7 linked regions of the Homo sapiens genome follow. The protein of the gene in region 1 interacts with the protein of each later gene in a pairwise test. Each region holds a gene or a part of one and is shown on either strand. Other genes may lie near its edges. The genes, in order: TTC23, BANP, KLHL42, MID2, ZBTB16, KIAA1328 and LZTS2.

What was found.
Region 2: the proteins of TTC23 (region 1) and BANP interact in binary tests that used the Homo sapiens proteins (3 or more experiments, as listed by UniProt).
Region 3: the proteins of TTC23 (region 1) and KLHL42 interact in binary tests that used the Homo sapiens proteins (3 or more experiments, as listed by UniProt).
Region 4: the proteins of TTC23 (region 1) and MID2 interact in binary tests that used the Homo sapiens proteins (3 or more experiments, as listed by UniProt).
Region 5: the proteins of TTC23 (region 1) and ZBTB16 interact in binary tests that used the Homo sapiens proteins (3 or more experiments, as listed by UniProt).
Region 6: the proteins of TTC23 (region 1) and KIAA1328 interact in binary tests that used the Homo sapiens proteins (3 or more experiments, as listed by UniProt).
Region 7: the proteins of TTC23 (region 1) and LZTS2 interact in binary tests that used the Homo sapiens proteins (3 or more experiments, as listed by UniProt).

The regions. Positions count from the first base shown.
Region 1 is NC_000015.10:99,243,082-99,246,581, forward strand, and holds part of TTC23 (tetratricopeptide repeat protein 23), read right to left. Parts: intron 2,430-3,500; 5' UTR 2,308-2,429; intron 1-2,307. UniProt on the Homo sapiens protein: Participates positively in the ciliary Hedgehog (Hh) signaling.
Region 2 is NC_000016.10:88,034,934-88,038,433, forward strand, and holds part of BANP (protein BANP), read left to right. Parts: intron 1-389; coding exon 390-461; intron 462-3,039; coding exon 3,040-3,078; intron 3,079-3,500. UniProt on the Homo sapiens protein: Controls V(D)J recombination during T-cell development by repressing T-cell receptor (TCR) beta enhancer function. Binds to scaffold/matrix attachment region beta (S/MARbeta), an ATC-rich DNA sequence located upstream of the TCR beta enhancer.
Region 3 is NC_000012.12:27,783,233-27,786,732, forward strand, and holds part of KLHL42 (kelch-like protein 42), read left to right. Parts: intron 1-3,500. UniProt on the Homo sapiens protein: Substrate-specific adapter of a BCR (BTB-CUL3-RBX1) E3 ubiquitin-protein ligase complex required for mitotic progression and cytokinesis. The BCR(KLHL42) E3 ubiquitin ligase complex mediates the ubiquitination and subsequent degradation of KATNA1.
Region 4 is NC_000023.11:107,839,366-107,842,865, forward strand, and holds part of MID2 (probable E3 ubiquitin-protein ligase MID2), read left to right. Parts: intron 1-1,304; coding exon 1,305-2,020; intron 2,021-3,500. UniProt on the Homo sapiens protein: E3 ubiquitin ligase that plays a role in microtubule stabilization. Mediates the 'Lys-48'-linked polyubiquitination of LRRK2 to drive its localization to microtubules and its proteasomal degradation in neurons.
Region 5 is NC_000011.10:114,244,711-114,248,210, forward strand, and holds part of ZBTB16 (zinc finger and BTB domain-containing protein 16), read left to right. Parts: intron 1-2,487; coding exon 2,488-2,655; intron 2,656-3,500. UniProt on the Homo sapiens protein: Acts as a transcriptional repressor. Transcriptional repression may be mediated through recruitment of histone deacetylases to target promoters. May play a role in myeloid maturation and in the development and/or maintenance of other differentiated tissues.
Region 6 is NC_000018.10:37,066,627-37,070,126, forward strand, and holds part of KIAA1328 (protein hinderin), read left to right. Parts: intron 1-241; exon of another isoform or gene 242-263; coding exon 264-919; intron 920-3,500. UniProt on the Homo sapiens protein: Competes with SMC1 for binding to SMC3. May affect the availability of SMC3 to engage in the formation of multimeric protein complexes.
Region 7 is NC_000010.11:101,005,571-101,008,333, forward strand, and holds the end of LZTS2 (leucine zipper putative tumor suppressor 2), read left to right. Parts: coding exon 1-145; intron 146-914; coding exon 915-1,598; 3' UTR 1,599-2,263; downstream 2,264-2,763. UniProt on the Homo sapiens protein: Negative regulator of katanin-mediated microtubule severing and release from the centrosome. Required for central spindle formation and the completion of cytokinesis.

The sequences.
Region 1 (3,500 bases):
ATATTTGTAAACTACCCATCTGACAAGGGATTAATAACCAGAATATATAAGGAGCTTAAACAAAACCCAATAGGAAAAAAAATCTAATAATCTGATTAAAAAGTGAGCAAAAGATCTGAATAGACATTTCTCAAAAGACATGCAAATAACCAACAAGTATATGAAAAAATACTCAACATCACTGATCAGCACAGAAAGGCAAATCAAACTACAATGAGGTCATCTCACCCCAGTTAAGATGGCTTTTATTAAAAAGGCAGTAACAGATGCTGGTGAGGATGTGGACAAAGGGGGACACTCATACACTGTTGGTGGGAATGCAAGTTATTACAGCCACTGTGGAGAACAGTATGGAAGTTCCTCAAAAAGCTAAAAATAGAAGAACTACCATATGATCCAGCAGTCCCACTGCTCCATATATATCCAAAAGAAAAGTATATCAGAGATATCTGCACTCCCATGTGTACTGCAGCTCTATCCACAACAGCCAAGATTTGGAATCAGCCTAAATGTTCATCAACACATGAATGGATAAAAAAATGTGGTAGATATACACACAAAACAGAACGAAATCCTGTCATTTACAGCAACATGGATGAAACTGAAGGATATTATACTAAGAGAAATTAACCAGGCAGAGAGAGACAAATTTTGTATGTTCTCACTCATTTATGAGAGCTAAAAATTAAAACAACTGAACTCATGAACACAGAGAGTAGAATGATGATTACCAGAAGCTGGGAAGGGTATTGGGCAGGGAGGGAAAAGTGGGGATAGTTAATGGGTACAAAACGTAGTTAGATAGAATGAATAAGATCTAGTACTTGATATCACAACAGGGTGACTACAGTCAACAATAAGTTATTGTATATTTTAAAATAACTAAAAGAGTAGAATTGGAATAATTCTAACACAAAGAAATGATAAGTGCTTGAGGACACAGATACCCACTTACTCTGATGTGATTACTATACATTGTATGCCTGTGTCAAAGCATCACATGTATCTCATAAATATATACACCTACTACTATGTACTCACAAAAATTAAAAATTAAAAAACAAAACCAAAAAATCCTGATTTACAAAAACCTAAAGCTAATATCATACTTAATGGAGCATGTTTGAATGTTTTCCAAGATTGGAAACAAGGCAAGAATGATTTCTCTCACCACCTGTAGTCAAAGTTGTGGATATTACAGTCAGAGCAACAGGCAAGAACAATAAATTAAGGCATGAAGATTAGAAAGGGAGAAATAAAACATTATTATCAGCTGACATAACCCTCTATGTAGAAAATCCTAAGGATTCCACAATAAATAAACAAATAAATCGCCCCCCCCAATTAGAACGACTAAATAAGTTCGGCAAGGCCATAGGATACATAATAAATAAATAAAATTGTATTTTTATATGTCAGCAATAAATAATCTGAAAATAAAATTAAGAAAACACTGATTCAAAATAGGATAAAGAGAATAAATATGTAGGAATAAATTTAACAAAAGAAATACAAGACTTGTACAATGAAAATCATACATTATCGAAAGAAATTAAAGATCTAAATACATGGACATTCCATGTTCATAGATTAAAAGCCTCAATATTAAGATAGAATACTCCTCAAATTGATGTATCGATTTAATGTAATATCCATCAAAACTCAGCTGTTTTTTTGCAGAAATTAACAAGTTGATCCTTATTATGGATGAATTAAGATGGAAATACGAGACTAAGAATAAATAAAACAATCTTAAAAAAGAAGTTGGAGGACTCACACTTCCCATTTTTAAAATGTACTATAAAACTAAAGTAAAAGTAATCAAAAGTGTTGTACTTAAAAATTTTCAGTTATGAGGTAAATAAGTTCTAGAGATATACAGCATGGTAACTATAGAAAATAATTGAAATTTGTTAAGATCTCAGATGTTCTCATCACACACACAAAAATGGTAATTATGTCAAGTGATGAATGTGTGAGCTAGCTCTATTGTGGGAATCATTACAAAAGGTACACTTATATCAAAACACCATGATGTTTACCTCAAATGTATATAATTTTTAGTTTGTCAATCATATTTCAATAAAGCTGGGGAAAAGCCCTCCCCAAAACAACGTGGTGGTACTGGCATAAGAAATGACATATAGAGGCCGGGCGTGGTGGCTCATGCCTGTAATCCCAGCACTTTGGGAGGCCGAGGTGGGCGGATCACTTGAGGTCGGGAGTTCGAGACCAGACTGGCCAACATGGCAAAACGCTGTCTCTACTAGAAATACAAAAAATTTAGCCAGATTTGGTGATAAGTACCTGTAATTCCAGCTACTCGAGAGGCTGAGGCAGGAGAATCGCTTGAACCTGGGAGGCAGAGGTTGCAGTGAGCCAAGATCACACCACTATACTCCAGCCTGGGTGACAGAGCGAGACTCCATCTCAAAAAAAAAAAAAAAAGAATTAATATATAGAAAAATGGGATAGTGTTGAGAGTCCAAAAATAAACTCTTATATATGTGAATTATTTTTTTTAACAAGCATGCCAAGATAATTCAATGGGAAGAGAACAGTCTTTTCAATAAACAATAAACAGTGCTGGTACAACTGGATAGATACATGAAAAGAATAAAGTTGGATCTCTACACCTCACACCATATACAAAAATTAACTCCAAATGGAGTAAAGACTTAACAGTAAGAGGTAAAACTATAAAACTCTTTGCAAATATAGGAGTAAATCTTCATGAACTTTTTTTTTTTTTTTTGAGACAGACTCTCGCTGGAGTGCAGTGGCGTGATCTCGGCTCACTGCAACCTCCACCTCCCAGGTTCAAGACATTCTCCTGACTCAGCCTCCCTGACTCAGCCTCCCAAGCAGCTGGGATTACAGGTGCCTACCACCACGCCCAGCTAATTTTAGTAGAGACGGGGTTTCACCCTGTTGGCCAGGCTGTTCTCGAGCTCCTGACCTGAGGTGATCCACCCGACTTGGCCTCCCAAAATACTGGGATTACAGGTGTGAGTCACAGGGCCCAGCCTGTTAGGCAAAGACTTCTGAGATATAACACCAAAAGCATAAGTGATAAAAGAAAAAAAAAGATAAATTAGATTTCATCAAATCCAAATCTTTACTGCTTCAAAAGACACTATTATTAAAGTTAAAAGACAACCCACAGAATGGGAGACAATATTTGTAAATCATTAATCTGATAAAGGACTTTAACCACAATATATAAAGAACAATTAAAAATCAGTAACATGGGGCTGGGCGTGGTGGCTCACGCCTGTAATCCCAGCACTTTGGGAGGCCGAGGTGGGCAAATCACGAGGTCAAGAGTTCAAGACCAGCCTGGCCAACATGGTGAAACCCTGTCTCTACTAAAAATACAAAAAATTAGCTGGGCATAGTAGTGGGCACCTGTAATCCCAGCTACTCAGGAGGCTGAGGCAGGAGAATCGCTTGAACCTAGGAGGCAGAGGTTGCAGTGAGCTGAGATCGAGCCACTGTAC
Region 2 (3,500 bases), on another chromosome or scaffold:
TTCTGAGTAGTAGCATGATGAAGTCTGGTCGTCCTGCTCTGTCCAGCCCGGGACGTGAGTCGTTCCTTTGTCCAGCATGTCCAAGCTGTGTGGCACATATGGGCGGGAAAAAGCATAGCATATATGGGGTTCAGCACCATCCACAGTTTCTGGCGTCCACGTGGTGGGGGTAGGGGGTGCTTCTTGAAACCCTCATGGATGAGGGGGACTACTGTGAACCAAAAGCTTAATTTAAAGAAGTGACCACAGACTATATTGCACTATTCAGGATTTAGTTATCTTTTTGAATTGTAAACAGATAATCAAGAACAAACATTCCGGAAGATGTTTCTTGTTTCCTTTGCTTTTGATTTTCTTCTGATGCTTCTTGGTGTCTTTTCTTGCTGCGGATCCCACAGGGACACCTCCACATCGCCCAGGTGCCGCAGGGGGAGCAAGTCCAGATCACGCAGGACAGCGAGGTGAGTCAGCTCTCGCTGCAGCACTGTCCCTGCAGGCACCGTGCCCACATGCTCCCGACCTTCATCGGTGTCACAGTGCGAGGGCAGCAGGGAGCCCCCAGGACAGGGAACGTGGGCAAGGGCTGCAGGACTCCGCTTCCAGGGTGCACATAGCGGGCCTGCAGTCTCTGTGGCCTCTCTGCCTCCCCCTCCTGTCCGTTGGTCTCCACAGCTTCTGGTCTGTCTTGGTAAAGATCTCCTGGGTAGATGTTTCTACTGCTGGCTGGAAGTGCCCTCTGAGTACCCTTCTCTCCCTGTCTGGCCCTGCCCTTCCTGCCAGGGGAGGCCCCCAGTGTGGCCGAGATGGGGTCTGCCCCTGCGTAGGTGACCTGACATACCCCCTCACCTGCCATGTGGCCCCAGCTTCCTAGTGGCCTCTACGGGATTAGTGCCGATTTCATGGGATGGTGGGGAATCCCACAAGGTGATGCTGCCAGTCCTGAGAGCTGCTCATAGCCCTTGACGCACCTGCTGGGTCTGTGATTGTCTCAGTTTCTGGAGCTCTACCCGGCCACGCACTCAGAAGTGCGGGCTCAGCTGCTGTTGGGGTCTGGAATGTGAAGGCGGCAGTGACAGTCTGAGTTCTTGGAAAGCCGAGGCCAGCCTGTTGCGATGCTCCATGTTTGCATGCCAGAGCAGGACTGTCTCCCGGGTGACCGTCCTTCGACTCTGGGCTGTTTCCTGCAGCACAGGCAGCAGCAGGCACAGGGCACTAAGCAGCACACACGTGTTGTACTCAGTGACCGTGGTGCGCTCTGGGGGATGAGGAACATGGCTGTTTCTAGGTCGTGACAATGGCACCAGCTTTGTGTTTGGTGCATAGTAGTGTGTCGCTGCAAAGATCTCAGGCTTCCCCACACACACCAGCAGCAGAGACTAGGAAGCCCGGGTGCTGAGGTCAAGGGGACTCATGGAGATGTTGGCGTGCGAGGCCTCCTGGGAGCTCATGCTGGGTGCAGGTGCTGTGGGGGAGCAGAGGAGAGAGAAGCCCTGCCATCGGGGACTCACAGCGGGCGCAGAGCCTCCTGCCCAAGTGCCCGTGAGCAAGACTGTGGACACATGCACGCCGTGGCACGTGGAGCACCAGGGACTCGGGCGTGTCTGCTGGCAGTGGCTTTAATTTGGACACCAGCAGTTCCCGGTGGGTTATCCTGAGAGGGGAGCACATGCGTAAGGGTTCTGAGGGCGGAATGAGGATGAGGTGAAAGGGGAGGAACGAATTCATGTGGGGGCCGTGAGCGACTGGGAATGAGTGGGCTCATCCACACAGCGACATGACCAGGTCACTAAGAAACGTGGTCAGATGGATGGATGGAAGGAAGCAGCAGGGCGGGGAGCAGGTAGGGGACGGTCCCAGGAGGCCAGAGTGTCCAGGAAGGAGCAGGGCCTTCCCTGTTCTGTGTCTGTGGGTGGGTCAGGGACCATCTCCTTGGAGATGTCAGGAGATGCGCCTGTCAGCTCAGCGAGGTCAGGTGCAGGAGTTGGGGGCCTGAGTGGCTGCGAGGTGCAGGATCCCAGCAGCACCTTCCAGTGCAGGAGCTGCCTTTGAGGGGCAGGGGAAGGTTTGCTTCTCAAGGCACAGACAGATGTGGGCTGGGAGGCTAAGCTCACTGCCAAAGAGCTCAGCCAGAGTTCTTGAATACCTGGAAGCCTATGAAGTTCGTCAGAATGCTTAATTTCCTTAGAGTCATTGAAAATGCAGGAAAATTGAAACAGCAGCAAAAGAAAAAAAACAACACACATTTGCTTTTTATAGTTTATGCTAAAAAAATCTTGACTACTCGAATTTCAATTTTTTATTATTAGTTTTATCCATCAGTTTTCAAAACTGAATCCATCTTGTATAGGTGATTGTCTTTCGTTTTCAATAGGAATTGAATGCAGTAAGTTAGAAATTGCTAATAATACTAACGATGGCTTTGTGATGAGTGACAGTATGCAGTCTCGTCACCATACATTCATACCGTGTTCATTTAAAATTATTTTGTTAAAACAGGATATCTGCAAATAAACATTTAGCAGGGTCTGACAGACAACACAGTTCCTTTTTACAACAAATGAAAATGAATTTCTAACTGGAGAGCTCTTAGTAGCTCTGTGGTTGAGTGAGTTGGTTCCTTGCGTGCAGCCCGTGACCTGGCGTGGTGATGCCGCACAGCTCAGCAAGGCGTCCCCCTTCGGGGAAGCTGGGCGACACACACATAGGACGTCTCTCTGCTACTTTCTGTACTTTTTGTGAGTCAGATTCTTTCAAAATAAAAAATGAAGTAAAAATGACATTTTCATTTGGGGTCAGGGTAGGGGAATGAGTACAATGCTTTTTGAGTTGTTTGTTCATCTTTAAAATAATAAATAGTACCTAGAAATGTCAATATTTTGTTTTGGGGCTTTTGTTGCTACTGGAGGTTGAATTTTTGCAGAACTGGGGTTTTCTTGTTATTCTCAAGTGGCCTGTGATGTGTCTTGGCGTGTTTGCCGTGTCTGAGGGTGTCTTGGTGTGTTTCTACTCATGACCGTCTCCTCCTCTCGTTCTTTGTAGGGCAACCTCCAGATCCATCACGTGGGGCAGGACGGTCAGGTGAGTGTCCCAGTCCCCATGCACATGCGGGCGTTGCGCTGCCGAGGGATGGGGTTCTCAGGGGAGGGGGTGGGACGGTCAGGTGAGTGCCCTGGTCCCCATGTACATGTGGGCATTGCGCTGCCGAGGGGTGGGGCTCTCACGGGAGGGGTGGGACGGTCATTGTGGGCATTGCGCTGCCGAGGGGTGGGGCTCTCATGGGAAGGGGGCGGATGGTCAGGTGAGTGCCACAGTCCCCCTCTCACATACAGGCCATGGTGCTGCCAAGGAATGGGGGCTCTCGCGGGAGGGAGCGAGGGTGCAAAGGCCTCTCAGTGTGAGCCCCAGAGCAGGACTGGCTTTCCTCACCATGACAATGCACAGGCCTGGAAGGGGGGAGGGCAGGGCTTGGGGGTTACATTTGCTGCTCCGTAGGATTTCAG
Region 3 (3,500 bases), on another chromosome or scaffold:
TTATCATCTTGACGCTGAGTAGGCTGAGGAGGAAAAGGAGGTAGAGGAAGGGTTGGTTTTGCAGTCTCGGGGTGGCAGAGGCAGAAGAAAATCTGAATGTAAGTGGACCCTCACAGTTCAAACCCGTGTTATTAAAGGATCAGCTGTATAAGTATATTGATAGTGGTTAACAATAGGGGAAAAGTGTTTATGTATATTAATGTGCACGGGGGTGTATCACCTTACACATTTTAAAAATTCTGAAATTGTCTAGGTTGTACTAATTATTATGGCACTTGATATTTCCATTTAACCATATCTGAGAGTTTTTTTTCTGTGTCAACAAATGTAGATCTACCTTATGCTTTTTTATTTTTTTATTTTTTTTGAGACGGAGTCTCGCTCTGTCGCCCAGGCTGGAGTGCAGTGGCGGGATCTCGGCTCACTGCAAGCTCCGCCTCCCGGGTTCACGCCATTCTCCTGCCTCAGCCTCCCGAGGAGCTGGGACTACAGGCGCCCGCTACCACACCCGGCTAATTTTTTTTTGTATTTTTAGTAGAGACGGGGTTTCACTGTGTTAGACAGGATGGTCTCGATCTCCTGACCTCGTGATCCGCCCGCCTCAGCCTCCCAAAGTGCTGGGATTACAGGCGTGAGCCACCGCGCCCGGCCTTACCTCACGCTTTTTAATGGCTGCGTGGCATTCCAGCCTATGGATGTACCATAATGTAATTAGCCCTTCCCTTATTTATGGACATTTAGGTCACTTCCATTTGCATTGGATGTTTCAATAAGCACTGCCATTGAACATCCTGGTAGATGCGTGCATGTATCTTAGTAGCCATATGTGAGTTAGTTTCATATGTCAAATTCGTGGAATCCCTGGATAGGTAGGGCAAAGTGTATGTGTTTTTTTTTTTTGTTTTTGTTTTTTTTTTTTGGGGACGGAGTCTCGTTCTGTTGCCCAGGCTGGAGTACAGTGACGCGATCTCGGCTCACTGCAAGCTCCGCCTCCCAGGTTACGCCATTCTCCTGCCTCAGTTTCCCGAGTAGCTGGGACTACAGGTGCCCGCCACCACGCCTGGCTAATTTTTTTTTTTTTTGTATTTTTAGTAGAGAAGGGGTTTCACCTTGTTAGCCAGCATGGTCTCGATCTCCTGACCTCGTGATCCGCCCACCTAGGCTTCCCAAAGTGCTGGGATTAAGTTGTGAGCCACCGCGCCCAGCTGTGTATGCATGTTTTAAATTTTGTTGAAGCTGGGTGCAATGGTTCACGCTTGTAGTCCCAGCTACTTGGGAGGCTTAGGCAGGAGGATCACTTGAGCCCAGGAACTGAAGGCTGCAGTGCACTCTCATCGGGCCCGTGAATAGCCATTGCACTCCAGCCTGAGCAACATAGTGAGACCTCATCTCTATAAACAGTTAAAAATAAATAAATAAATAGATTTTGGTTGCTCCCGCCAAATTGCCCATCAAAAAAATTGTTCTGATTTCCTCTTCCATCAAAAGTGTTTGTGCTTGCCAGTTCCCTATACTCTTGCCAAGATAGAATATTATCATCTTTTTTTCCCCAAACCTAATGGGCAAAAACACTAGTGTGATTTTTCCCAATTAGAAGAGAGATTATTCTTTTTATATGTTGGTTGGCCATTTGTATTTCTTTTGTAAATGGTCTTTGCCAGTTTCCTAAAAATTGGCTTATTTTCTTCACATTCATTTGAGAAGTTCTATGTGTGAATACAGATATTAATCTCTTGTCTGTTATGTAATGTCGTGCATGTTTTCCCATGCTGTTATTTTTTCTGCAGTGTTCAAAAATAAGATCCCAAAGTGACTGGGTAGGTGAAATTGTTGCATAGAGGGGTGGGTGGGAGTTATGATGAAGCTGAGAGCTATCGCCCCACCAAAAGAGGGCTCCACCTCTCAACCATGGCTGGTTACTTCTACGGGGAAGGGAGGAAATGTTGCCAGACATCCAAATATCCCTTTATTTTTTCTTTTTTAAAGAAATGGGGTCTTGCTTTGTCACCCAGGCTGGAGTACAGTGGTGTGATCATAACTTACTGCAGCCTTCAACTCTTGGGCTCAAGCAATCCTCCTGCTTCAGCCTCCCCAGTAGCTGGGACTACAGGCATGCAACACCATGCTTGGTTAATTTTTTAAAATTAAAATTTTTTCTTTTGTAGAAATGGGGGCTATGTTACCCAGGCTGGTCTTGAACTCCTGGCCTCAGGTAATCCTCCCACTGTGGCCTCCCAAAGTGCTAAGATTACATGCCACCATGCCTGACCCTCCATTATATCTTCTAATTGATTATTGATGCTGTATTGGAAATTGTACCCTTCTTTAGTTCCCTCTGCTTTGACTCAGGTATGACATATCTCCTAGGAGTTCCTTCCCGAACTCTGGCTTGGGCTGAGTGTTCCGTGTCTGCTCCTCTAGCATCTCATGCACATTCCCCGACTTGAATTGAAATTCTCTGTTGTTGTCTCTCTGCCTTCCGATCAGGAACTAGGACTTACTCAATGCTTATGTATAGCCCTACTCCTAACAAGATGTCCAATAATAATAGGTGCTTAAAATACGTGTTTTCTTTAAAAAAAACTATGGAATATATTTTTACATTATTGTAATAAAAGTTAATGTATAATTTTATATTTCGCTTTATTTGTAACACTATAGTGAACATTTTTACCTTGGTAACAGTCATTATATTTATTTAGAGTAGCTGAGAAATAATGAGAGACATCATTTAATTGAACACTTAACTCTGCAGTAGGTACTGTTCCCGCTGCTTTGCATGAATTATCTAACTTATTCTTCACAAGGGCTGTTAGGCAGGTTCCCATTCTAAAGAGACAGAAAGTGAGGCACAGAGAAGTAAATTGCTCAAGGATGTGTAATAAGTACAGCAACCAAAATGTAAATATCCATTGAGTAGTTATAACCACTTAAATTGTTTATAAGTTTTGGATTTTAGACTTGCAGGGACCATCTTCATGCACATTTCCCCCCTTCTTTAAAAAAAATTATTTCCTTCTAAAAAATAGAGCACAGATCTTTTGTGGTACAGTGCTACTTTTCAAAATTTCATCATGTGTGCCTCAGCTCCACGACAGCCTTTAAGCCCAGCATTCTTCTAGTCACTGTTGGATGTACAGAAACTGATGACGTAATTGCTGCCCTCAAGAAGTTTAAAATTGAGTTTAGGTGATGAGACAAGTAAAAATGAAACCTAGCACAGAGTTTTTCCTGGATGAGGCATCCAATACAGGTTATGCATGCACTGGAAGAAATTTGGAACCTTGAGAAAGAAAACCAGATTTTGGCCTCTGGCTATGCAGAATTTCACATCTACTTTGATTCACCTTTGTCGGAGACTGCTTTGGGATGTATCAGTATTTTACTTTGATAAAGGGGTCAAATGTAGAGCAGTTCACTTTTCCCAGGGACTGAATAGTGCAGTGATCCAGAATCTTAAATAGCAGGAACTCTGGGATTGAAAGAGTTTTTTTTTTTTT
Region 4 (3,500 bases), on another chromosome or scaffold:
GTTTGTTTTGTTTGTTTTTTTTTTTTTTGGCAGTCTCACTCTGTCACCCAGGCAAGAGTGCAGTGGCATGATCTCGGCTTACTGCAACCTCCACCTCCCAGGTTCAAGCGATACTTCTGGTTCAGCCTCCCGAGTAGCTGGGACCACAGGCAAGCGCCACCACGCCCAGCTAATTTTTGCATTTTTAGTAGAGACAGGGTTTCACCATATTGGCCAGGAAGGTCTGGACCTCCTAACCTCGTGATCCACCCACCTTGGCCTCCCAAAGTGCTGGGATTACAGGCGTGAGCCACTGTGCCCGGCCGGGTGACCTCTTTTACTCACTGATGCTCACTAAATTGAAGGTTACCAGATCTTAAAATTTCTGGAACTTTGCTAATTTCTATCTAGATATTGATTTGCATCCTGTTATGTTTTAGAAAGTATGAAAAGACACATGGGAGGTGAGCTTCATAGCTGGCTTGTGCTAGTTCAGCAGGTGTTTAGTAATGAAACCAAACTGAAGCCACAAGGCAATATGACTTTATTATTGATCAGCAACTATTGCTGAGTAGGTTGAAAAGTTTGAAATCATTCCCCATTCAGCTTGATGAACTGAAGGGGTTTCTGAAGGTGAGGGAAGAAGATGAAAGTGAAAACTATCATCTTTTATCTCAAGTAACTCAGTTTACTAGGAATAGAATGGAACGGAAATTTCCATGTGTGATAATAAGAAGTAATTCAAGTTCACACTCTGAGGAAAAACTTATTATCCTGCACCAAGGGCTACATTTTTCTAAAGCTCTCTCTTTTTTATGCAGGCTTTCAGAATGGAATCATTTCAGGAAGTAGAGAGTTACTTTAAAATATGGCATTGTTTTCCTTACACTGGATGTCACATAGAAGCAGCCCTACAGTTTACCTTGAAGTGAAATAGAGAACAATATTGGAGAATAGAGATTGGGAATTTTGCAGGGTCTCAGCCTTATCTTAGTCTAGGAAAAGAGATGTCAGTGGAGAATATGTGAGAGAATGATCCATGCAAATATTGTGAGCTGGAATGGTAATGTTAATCAGTCTATCAGGATTCAGAGGTGGCCATTTGGTTTTATCTATTTGTGCATGAAAATAAACATAGGCATTTGTCTAAAACAAGGTTTGAAGGGGAAGAAAGTCTTCCTGATTAGTTCCCAAATTGCTTTTCTATTGCTTAAGCATCTCTGGGGAATCCAGCACGTAAACGCGCCCATTGGTTAGTGTATAATTGTGTTATATCCATTTTCCTTTGGAAATGCCTAATGACTCTTGCTTTGTATTCCTTGCAGGTGAAAGCCCAGCCTCCGTGGTTCTTAATGCCTCAGGAGGACTATTTTCACTAAAGATGGAAACACTGGAGTCTGAATTGACCTGTCCAATCTGCCTAGAGTTGTTTGAAGACCCCCTTCTGCTCCCTTGTGCTCACAGCCTCTGCTTCAGCTGTGCCCATCGCATTTTGGTATCAAGCTGCAGCTCTGGTGAATCCATTGAACCCATTACTGCTTTCCAGTGTCCTACCTGCAGGTATGTTATCTCGCTGAACCACCGGGGCCTGGATGGCCTCAAGAGGAATGTGACTCTGCAGAACATTATTGATCGCTTCCAGAAGGCTTCAGTCAGTGGGCCCAATTCCCCTAGTGAGAGCCGCCGGGAAAGGACTTACAGGCCCACCACTGCCATGTCTAGCGAGCGAATTGCTTGCCAATTCTGTGAGCAGGACCCGCCAAGGGATGCAGTAAAAACATGCATCACCTGTGAGGTCTCCTACTGTGACCGTTGCCTGCGGGCCACGCACCCCAACAAGAAACCTTTCACCAGCCACCGCCTGGTGGAACCAGTGCCAGACACACATCTTCGAGGGATCACCTGCCTGGACCATGAGAATGAGAAAGTGAACATGTACTGTGTATCTGATGACCAATTGATCTGTGCCTTATGCAAACTGGTGGGTCGTCACCGAGACCATCAGGTCGCATCCCTGAATGATCGATTTGAGAAACTCAAGGTAAGGGATCTGGGGAGCATCCCCTATACAACTTTGTCGCATAAATGCAGTTAGCAAGTTCTCTAATAAAATAGGTGACTTTTCCTATATGACAAGTGAGTTAACTTTAAGTTGTTCTCATGAGGAATAACCTGCTCTCCTGCAAGCTCTTCCTGGAGCCTATCTCATCTGTTGCATAAACATTCTTGCAGTCACACACTTCTGGCTAACTTTTGGGGAGTCAGCTCATGGCCTGCAACACCAGTAGTTCATCCAGGGAAACACACCCTCTATCTTCTGTCAGTGACATATTGCTTATTATATATCTTTGCTATGATCTTTCCACCTCTTCTTTTAAGTATGTGAGTACTTGTGTACGTGTACTACAATTAGCATATGTGTCGATTTGCATATGTAGGTATATGGCAATGGGAAGGCAGGGTGTGTCTCTGTGTAGGTGTGGGTGGAGGTGGCTGAGTGTATCTAGGTAGGTGAGAGATTTTTGTGGAGGACATTATTGTATGTTTGTGTTTGTGTACTCAATACACTAAAGAAACAAAAGTTTGGCATTGGCCATTACAAATTGCCATTAAGCCTTTAACATAGGGCTAATTCTAAGCCTGCCTTTAAAAACAAAACAAAACAAAACAAAACAAAGAACTGAAGAAACTTCAGTATACCACGAAATTGGGAGGGATAATTAAATATCTGAATGAACAATTTAAACTGAAGGCAATAAATATTTTATCCAGTATCAAATTTTGTGACAGTGCTCACTATTATGGGCTACAAACTGAAGCATTTGTTTATAGTTCCTGCCTTACAAGTTCCTAGTCATTTATGTGTATTCAATGGACAGAGTTTTCTAAAGTTGTTGTGTCATATAATATGTATGTACAAGTCTAAGTGCCCATAAAAAGTCCTCCTACCTTACACTGATGATCCAGCGAATTGTTTTATTCCCATTGCTTGTCTGCTATGTTGTATAATTTCTCTTAAGAAGGGAGCTACTTAGCAGATATTCTAGAAAAATAAAATGTTTAAACGGATAGTAAAATTACCACTCCAAATAGAACCTGAGTACATAAGCCAAGCTAGAAGAAAGACCCAGATAGGATAAAAGGAGGGCAAGAAGGGAATGGAGATTTTCCTCCTGCCATGCAGTGGATGATTCATTGTAACTTCTGTAAAAAGTATAATGTTGGTGAGAGTAGCAGTACTCAGAATAGGATATATTTGTCCTGTAATTTGTTGCAAATAATATTGAGAGTAGTCACAATGACTATGGTTTGTGCCTCTTTTGGTTATTATTTATACCTGATATGTATAAATGTGTAGCAAATTCAATTTTTTTATTTCACTCAAGTTGATACTCTCATTCATATCAAGGCTGCAGAGGGAAATAATCTTGTTAACTTCAGTTCTTAGACTCATAAGATATTAGGCCTTTGACTTGGTCTAGTCGAAGCGCTCTACTTTAAAGTTGTATAAACAGACCTTG
Region 5 (3,500 bases), on another chromosome or scaffold:
TAAACTCATTTAACATGTGCTCCACTTCATAATTAAATTCCTAAAAATCGGATCAAACAAACTCCTCTGTCTTAACCCTTTGTTTTTTAAATTGTTAGGGACCCCTCTGGAGGGGAAAGGCACAGGCAGCCGCCCCCTTCCCCCCCACCGCCGCCTTCACCCCCACCCGGCTGGGTGGCTGCCGATGTACGTTTTAATTACCGGCTCCAGCTGAAGTCTCACGTGGCCTTGGCTTTATTTATTTATTTATACCTTAATGAGGATACTGAATCTTTGATTAAAGTCGTAATCGTTGCCGATTCAGTAAGGAGGGGGAGTTGGATGTCAGACCAGACAGGGCTGTGAGTGCAGACACACGGAGAGAGTGGGTTCGGGTGCACACACAGACTGGCCCTTACTGTGTTAGACACACAACTAATTAGTACCAGGGTCTGCACAGGCCTCCACTCCCTTGAGTTTGATGGGGCTGGGGGCCAGGCAGTCCGCATGGCTCTGGCAGTGAGGATGGGCAGGTAGCAATTTCCCCAACTGAGAACCCTGGGCCTTGGCCCATCCCCAGATCTGCAGGTGAGGGACTCGCTGGCCGAGCCTCTGAGCCAGTGCAACACCCCATAGATTGGGGTGAACTGGTGTCAAGGCACGATGCCACTCTTTGAGCTTCTCTCATCTGATTCCCTGATGGAAGTGCCCCTCTCATGGCATGGGTGCTTCTTGCAAATCTTCCACCCATGAGAAAGTCACTGATCAGACCCCAGCATCCGCTCCCCTCAGAGCCCTAAAAACCCCTCAGAGCCATCAGAACAGATGAGAATTTATGTGGGTACAGGGGCCTAACTTTGGGAGGGGGGAGCTTTGGTTAGTGGCCCGAGGAGGGGAGAGACAGGAGAGAGTAAAATATCATTTTAAAAAGGAAGTGAAGGCACAGGCATGCGAGTCTATAACGAGAAGGACAATTTATGCCCAGGCACGAGCGCAGTTTGACATGGGGATAATGCAAAAACGTAGGTCATTGTGGATGACTTAAACCTTCAGCAGCTGAAGAAAATGTATGAAATGCAGAGGACATTACACGGTTGGCAGCCCCGCACATCTGCAGAGGGACAAGTGAAATACAGTGGGCCATTCTTTACCATAAACTGTGGTTGTTGGAGATGCAGCCCAGAGAAATTGTAATTACAGTGACAAGACGAATCAGCGATATTTAAATATTCATGAACAAAGTCTGGGGTGATCAATCTATCTTTATTGTCTGCGCCTTCACTCCTGTAATAAATAAGTAGCTGGAGTCCTCACCTTTCATCCCCCAAGCCCCCCACTTTGGATATGAAAGGCAAGATGGTTATTCTCCACACCCCAACCTCTCATGCTCTGGAGATTTAAGAGTGGGATCCTCAAAAAAGAAAAGGCAGTTCTCTCCAAGTTTCATAGACCCACCATTTCCTGGGTCTGTTCTGGATCCTCCCTGTGCGATACACTGAGGCTACAAGGATGGGTGAGGCTTGCTTCTTATCCTGGTGGTGCTTCCATGCTGGAGGTATGGTGGGCAAGCCAGTAGATACAGCATAGTGTGTCAGCAAGCTGACAAGTATATGGTACCCTGACTCTAGAGCCAGACCCAAACCTGAATCCCAACTCAGCTCCTTACTTGCCGTTTCACCTTAGGGATGATGTGGAAGCATCTCATTTTTTTCTCAACTGTAAAATGAGACTAATATCTTTCTTTAAGTTTGTTGCCATGATCATCTGATGCGATCACATCACACATCTGAGTGCTCAGGAAATGTAGCCCATTTTAATGCGAAAGTGGCATAAAAATGATACCACACTAATAACAGAACAAAATTCTGGGCATTTCTTCTCTTTGGGGACACAGAAGAAAGTGTGATTCATTCTGCCTGGGGAACTAAAGGGAAGCGTCCACGCGGGGGTATCATATGAGCTGGGCTTTGAAGGATGATTAGGAGTTCACCAGGGAGAAAAGAAGAAATCGAGCAGAGGAAACAGCTATGTAAGACTGTGGAGGAAGGAAATTGGGGACTGTAGAAGGTGTTTGGGGGACAATGTGAAGTTCCTCAAATTGGAGAGATTTCTTTGAAGGTTGGGGAGTCAGGCTGGAGTGACTTTCACCCTTAACCTAAAGGAAGGGGAGAAGAGGTCATCTGAGAAGCAAGATGGTGAGGTCTCATGTATCCACAAGGGGGCTTGCTTTCTGGGGACTGCTGTCCATCCCTGAACCAAATGGGCTCTCTTTCCCAGGACTGGCCCTTGCCCCACAGATGATCATGGGGCCACAGTAAAGTATGGTCATGTGTGAAGACAGGTATTGCTTGTTTATTCAATGGAGGTGTGGCCGTGGATCCTTAAGTTGTCTTTGGAGGTGGTGAATACAGGCCGTCGCATCCTTCTCATGCACAGAATGTGCCCTACTGTCCCCTGAAGAGGGGGCAGGGAGAGGCAAAGGCCTGATCCAGCCCCTTGTCTCCACAGGCGACCACCCCTACGAGTGTGAGTTCTGTGGCAGCTGCTTCCGGGATGAGAGCACACTCAAGAGCCACAAACGCATCCACACGGGTGAGAAACCCTACGAGTGCAATGGCTGTGGCAAGAAGTTCAGCCTCAAGCATCAGCTGGAGACGCACTATAGGGTGCACACAGGTACCGAAGGCCAGGGAGGGGCCTGAGCTGGCTCTGGGACCTGGGCGGAGGTGGGAAGCAGATAGTCTCCTAGAGAAGCCTAAGTGAGGATGATCCCAGGCTGAATCAAAGAGTAGAAGAGGTTCTATTAAGAGCTGGTATGGTGGCCTGAGGACCACCACACCCCAGTCAAGGTGGCCTGAGGGCCATCAGTCAAGGCCAAGGCAGACATTACTAATCAATCCCAGCACACTTTCCAGTGAGCCCCCATCAGCCCTCCAGGCAGCTATACCAGTAGTTCAGAGGTGACATGCAAAATGATGTCTGTATATGAGTCCTGAATTAGGGGTAAGTTGGTCCAATTAGCTGAAAGTGAAGGTTAGGGTAATTTCATGTTACTCAAGGGTTAGAGTAAGAATTAGGATACATTGAATTAGGTTGTTATGAAGGTTGGGAAGTTGTAAAGTTAGATTGTGTTTGGTTCTGAGATTAGAAGAGCAGATATATTTAATAATCCCTATATGCATATGATGTTTTACCACTTCAGAGTGCCTTCACATTTTTTTTTTTTAGACGGAGTTTCGCTCTTATTGGCCAGGCCGGAGTGCAGTGGCACGATCTCAGTTCACTGCAATCTCTGCCTCCTGGGTTCAAGCGATTCTCCTGCCTCAGCCTCCCAATTACCTGGGATTACAGGTGTGTGCCACCACGCCCAGCTAATTTTGTATTTTTTTTAGTAGAGACAGGGTTTTGCCATGTTGGTCAGGCTGGTCTCGAACTCCTGACCTCAAGTGATTCACCCGCCTCGGCCTCCAAAGTGCTGGGATTACAGGCGTGAGCCACCGTGCCCATCCACATTATTTTTT
Region 6 (3,500 bases), on another chromosome or scaffold:
ACCAAAGATCATGCTTAAGCAACATGTAGCAGCAACTTATTTTTCTTATCTTTATATAGATTTACTGAAGGGTAGGTTGTTTGAAAATGGATGTAGCTTTGGGGCACAAGTCTGTTTAGCTGTGTGAATGCTATAATTTAATATTTAAGACAAAACAACAGCTTTGGCTTGGTAAATATATATCACTGATTTCTGAAAAACCAAACGAAAGAACTTGTTTTGTTGTGTTCTTATTTGACAGGTGATCTTGTGGTTCTTTCTAGGTATCCAGTAGAAAAAGCACTCTCCAGTGTTCATCTGTGGAACTGGATGGTTCCTACTTGAGCATAGCCAGACCACAGACCTACTATCAAACCAAGCAAAGACCTAAGTCTGCAGTCCAGGATTCAGCTTCAGAATCCCTTATAGCATTTAGGAATAATTCTTTGAAACCAGTAACCCTTCATCATCCCAAAGATGATCTAGATAAGATACCATCAGAGACCACAACATGTAATTGTGAATCTCCAGGGAGAAAACCTGCAGTCCCAACAGAGAAAATGCCACAAGAAGAATTGCACATGAAGGAATGTCCACATCTTAAGCCTACTCCTAGTCAATGCTGTGGTCATAGACTTGCTGCAGATCGTGTTCATGACAGCCATCCTACAAACATGACCCCTCAACATCCTAAGACACATCCAGAATCATGCAGTTATTGTCGGCTTTCTTGGGCATCTCTGGTGCATGGTGGTGGGGCACTGCAACCCATTGAAACTTTGAAAAAGCAGATCTCAGAAGATAGAAAGCAGCAACTGATGCTTCAGAAAATGGAACTGGAAATTGAAAAGGAGCGCCTTCAGCATCTGCTGGCCCAGCAGGAGACAAAGCTTCTTCTAAAACAGCAGCAGCTTCACCAGTCTCGACTGGATTACAATTGGTGAGTACTGCCTGTTCTTTTTTTTTTTTTTTTGAGACGAAATCTCGCCCTGTTGCCCAGGCTGGAGTGTAGTGGCACAATCTCAGCTCACTGCAGCCTCCGCCTCCCGAGTTCAAGCAGTTCTCTGCCTCAGCCTCCCGAGTAGCTGGGATTACAGGCGCCCGCCACCATGCCCGGCTAATTTTTGTATTTTTAGTAGAGACGGGGTTTCACTGTCTTGGCCAGGCTGGTCTTGAACTCCTGATCTCATGATCCACCCGCCTTGACCTCCCAAAGTGTTGAGATTACAGGCATGAGCTACCGCGCCTGCCCAAGTCCTGCCTGTTCTTTTAGCAATGTCTGTAGTTTGGAGAGCACAGTGTAAAATTGTTGTAATACTATAGCAGATGGGTAGAACCAGAGGTTTTTCTGGATCTTGGCTTACTCGAGATGCATATCAGTTATGTCTACTAAGTAAATTCCCCTTTATTCTTTGGAAGACTTCAAAGATTACCTTGTCTTCCAAATTGATAGCTTAGAATATCTATTTCTGAGCAGTCTGGTGTAATTTTTGCTGGGTTCCAAAGACATTTTAAAATGATCTTGCCATTATGCAGAATCCTTTGCTGTTTGATATCATTGTGGACAATATTAGGCATTAAGTAAAAGCTTGAGATTTCGGGGTGTGGAATTAGATTGTAAAGCAGTGAGATTAGCTGTCATCATTCCGAATTTATGTCTACCCACCATAATATAAAATATAACAAGTGATGGGAGTCTTCTAAATTCAACCCTTTCTGGCCATGAAGCATGACCTGTTGAATGATGAATTCTCATACACCTATCCACATGTAGGCTGTTCTTCCCTTAACAATTCTTCCTAAGAACAGTGCTTCAAAAGATAAATTGCTGTTTTATTATTATATAATGTTTCTTTACTCCACATCCTTGTTGGCATTTGGTATTCTCATTAATTTTTATTTTACCTCTTCTAATACGTGTATAGTGACATTTCATCGCAGTCTTAATTTGCATTTCACTAATGGCTAGTAATGTTGAACATCTTTTTGTGTGTGTGCACGTTTGCCCTCCTATCTTCTTCAGTAAATTCTCTCTTCAGTATTGCCCATATTCTAATTGGATCATTTGGGTGTTTTGCTGTTTGGAGAGTTCTTCATATCTTCTAGATATATGTCTTTTGTCAGATATGTGAATAGCAAATATTTTCTCCCAGTCTGTAACTTGTCTTTTCTTTTTTATCTTTAATTTTTTTTTCTTTTGGTAGAGACAGGCTCTCACTCTGTTGCCCAGGCTGGTCTTGAACTTAAATAATTATCCCACCTCAGCCTCCCAAAGTGCTGGAATTACAGCCACTGCTGGAATTTGAGCCACTGCTCCTGACTCTGCCTTTTTAGTTGCTTAATGAGATCTTTCATAGAGCAGAAATTTTTAATTTTAATGAAGTCCAATTTATCTTTTTTTTCTGTTACGGATTATATAAAGTTTTATCATAGGTGTTGAATTTTGTCAAATACCTTTTATGAATTTTGTCAAATATCTTTTATGATCATGTGATTTGTCTTATTTGCCCTGTTAATATGGTGAATTACATAGATTTTTAAATATTAAACCAGCCTTGCATCCCTGAAATAAACCCCACTTGGTCATAATGTATGATTTTTTAAAATGTTACTGAATTCCATTTACTAATATTTTGTTGAGGATATTTGCATCAGTTTTTTTTTTTTTTTTTGAGACAGAGTCTTGCTCTGTCACCCAGGCTGGAGTGCAGTGGCATGATCTTAGCCCACTACAACCTCCACCTACTGGGTTCAAGGGATTCTCATGCCTCAGCCTCCCAAGTAGCTGGGATTACAGGCGTGAGCCACTGCATCTGGCCTATTTACATTAGTTTTGATGAGGGATATTGTTCTGTTGTTTTCCTTTTTCTTTTTTCCCCTGTGTCCTTGTCTTGTTTCGGTATCAAGGTAATGCAGGCCTCATAAAATGAGTTGGGAGATGTTCGCTCTGCTTCTGCTTTCTGGAAGAGATTGTGTAGAATTGGTGTTAATTCTTCTTTAAATGTTTAGTAGAATTCTCCAGTGAAGCCATCTGGACCTGGAAATTTATTTTTTGAGACTTTTTAAATTCCAAGTTTAATTTCCTTAATACTTACAAGGCTATTCAAATTATCTATTGGATAATCTGCCTTGCCACAGGTTTGTTCATTTTAATTATCTTTCAAATAACTGGGTTTTTGTTTCATTTAGTTTTTGTTATTGTTTTTCTGTTTTCAATTTCATTGATTTCTGCTCTTTATTATTTTCTTCCTTCTGCTTGCTTTAAATTTACTTTGCTCTTCTTTTTTCCTAATTTGTTAAGGTGGAAGCATATTGGTTTGAGACTTTTTCACTTTTCTACTGGAAGCATTTAGTGCTCTAAATTCCCTTCTCGGCACTGATTCAGCTATGTCCCACAAATTTTGATATGTTGCATTTTCATGTTTATCCAATTCAGTGTGTTTTTGGGGTATCTTTTGAAACTTCCTATTTGACCCATGGGTTATTTAGAAGTGTTATATTTAGTTTCCAAGTTCTTAAAG
Region 7 (2,763 bases), on another chromosome or scaffold:
GTTCCAGCTGCAGCAGGAGAAGCGGCAATTGCAGGACGACTTCGCACAGCTGCTGCAGGAGCGCGAACAGCTGGAGCGGCGCTGCGCCACCTTGGAGCGGGAGCAGCGGGAGCTCGGGCCGAGGCTTGAGGAGACCAAGTGGGAGGTGGGCCAGACCAGGAGGGGCAGGGAGCAGGGTCACACAGGGAGAAACCCTGGAAAAAGGGGCCCAGCCCCACCCTCCCTCAGCCTGCCACCCCCAGAGGTCCTCCCCTTTCTCACCTCCGTGAGATGAGGTTCCCCTCTGTCCCTTTCTGGGAGGGGGGTCTCCTTGTTGGCCTTGTCTAGTGGCACGTAGCCACGCTTCCAGCCAGTAGTAAGAATGTGGTGCTTGTGGTGTGGAGGCACTATTCTAAGCATGTTACATGGAACAGATCATTTCATCCTTATAACAACACTGAGGGGGCTACCATTAGTCTCCCCATTTTAGAGATGAGTAAACTGAGGCCCATAAAGGCTGAAGCCCCAAATCTGAACCCAGGCAGTCTGGCTCCAATATCTGAGCTCTTAACTAGGTCACTGTAGTACCTCTCCAGCAGGCACCTGGGCACTGCCCTCCATTGTCCCCACTCCTGCAGCACTTGCCAGGACCCAGTCCCCAGTCCCCAGTCCCCAGGGCTTGGTGGTACTTGCAGTGTCTTGTGATGCTTTGAAGACACCAGCTTTGAAGCAAAAAGTTCTAGGTCTGCTTTCCACTTAAGCCCCATCTTAACTGTATGACCTTGGACATGTCACTAGACTTGCTTTAGTGTCTCCATCTGTAAAATGGGGATAAAGATGGACTCTTCTCTCCCAAATGCCCAGCATGATGTGCAGGGCCTGTCCCCCCAGGAGAACCTGTCTCACCATCCTTCCCCACTTCCTCCCACCCCCAGGTGTGCCAGAAATCAGGCGAGATCTCCCTGCTGAAGCAGCAGCTGAAAGAGTCTCAGGCAGAGCTGGTGCAGAAGGGCAGCGAGCTGGTGGCTCTGCGGGTGGCGCTGCGGGAGGCCCGTGCTACGCTGCGGGTCAGTGAGGGCCGTGCGCGGGGTCTACAGGAGGCCGCCCGAGCTCGGGAGCTGGAGCTGGAAGCCTGTTCCCAGGAGCTGCAGCGACACCGCCAGGAAGCTGAGCAGCTGCGGGAGAAAGCTGGGCAGTTGGATGCTGAGGCGGCCGGACTCCGGGAGCCCCCTGTGCCACCTGCCACCGCTGACCCATTCCTCCTGGCAGAGAGTGATGAGGCCAAAGTGCAGCGGGCAGCAGCCGGGGTTGGGGGCAGCTTGCGGGCCCAGGTGGAGCGATTGCGGGTGGAGCTGCAGCGGGAGCGGCGGCGGGGTGAGGAGCAGCGGGACAGCTTTGAGGGGGAGCGGCTGGCCTGGCAGGCAGAGAAGGAGCAGGTGATCCGCTACCAGAAGCAGCTGCAGCACAACTACATCCAGATGTACCGGCGCAACCGGCAGCTAGAGCAGGAGCTGCAGCAGCTCAGCCTGGAGCTGGAGGCCCGGGAGCTCGCTGACCTGGGCCTGGCCGAGCAGGCCCCCTGCATCTGCCTGGAGGAGATCACTGCTACTGAGATCTAGGGCCCTCAGCAACCAGCTCTGTAGGGAGCTCTGCCAGAGGGGCAGCAGCTGCAGATCCACTTAGGCCCCAGGGTCCACGGATGGCCCCAAAGGCTGAGGGCCCCAAAGCCACTTGTCTCCTAGGATCCAGGCCTCTGGGCTTCTGCCAAGAACTCAGGGTGGCCCTATGACTTGGAGGAGCAAGATCAGACCGCTCAAAGGTCCCCGTGTTCACTGTTACCCAGAGGCTCTTGTTACTACCCACTTCATTCCCCACCGCTGCCAGTGCCACTGCCAACCCTGTTCACAGGCGCTTCCAGCCCACTCCAGCCAGGGGAGCAGGGAAGAAGAAGGGGCTCCCTCCTCTTCACATTCCCCCCGACCCCAAAGCCAGAGAAAGCCAGATGGCACCAGCTGCTCCGGATGTGCCTGCCCACATTGGGGGACAGGGCCGGGCCTGGGCTCGGTTCCCAGGTTTGAGCTCTGCAGCCTCTCTCCTGGAGTGAGGGGGCTGAAGTCAGACCAAAGGAAGAACTCAGAAATGTCTTGTTTATTTGTGTTTGTGACCAAGCAGCCTCTCCCTTCACCCAGGTTTATGGCCTCGTTTTCACTTGTATATTTTTCACACTGTAAATTTCTTGTACAAACCCAAAGAAAAAATTAAAAAAAATTTTTTTGTTTAAAAATAATGTGAATGTGCTGGATAAAGAGTACAGGAACTTGTTTGACCCCCCCCCCCCCACCATTTGCTGGCTATTCTCCTCCCCCTCATAGAGCTCTCTTGGGGAGAAAAGGTGATGGAGGAAGGACAAATCCAGTAGAATGTCTGAGGTCTTAGTGGACCCCAACGTGAAATGATCTCTCAGGATTTCAGGGACTAGAAAAGCCTTTCATCCGTTTCCTTGCACAGAATGCTGCTTGGGGTTGAGGAATGGATGCATTGACCCCTTCAGGGCCCTGTCTGAGAGTCTGTGTCCCTGGAGGCTTGGGCGACTCATAAGGGACAGCATGTGAGAAAGTGCCCACCAATCCCAAGCTCCAGACCTTGGCTTTCTCACCCCCTATCCTGGCTTGGGAGGTTGGGGAGCAGTGAGTGCAGGTGACACAGGCTGCCCACTAGCACCTTGTCCTTGGACACTAAGGCAGAGCCTTAATGACAGCTGAGGAGGGAAGAAAGTGGAAAGAT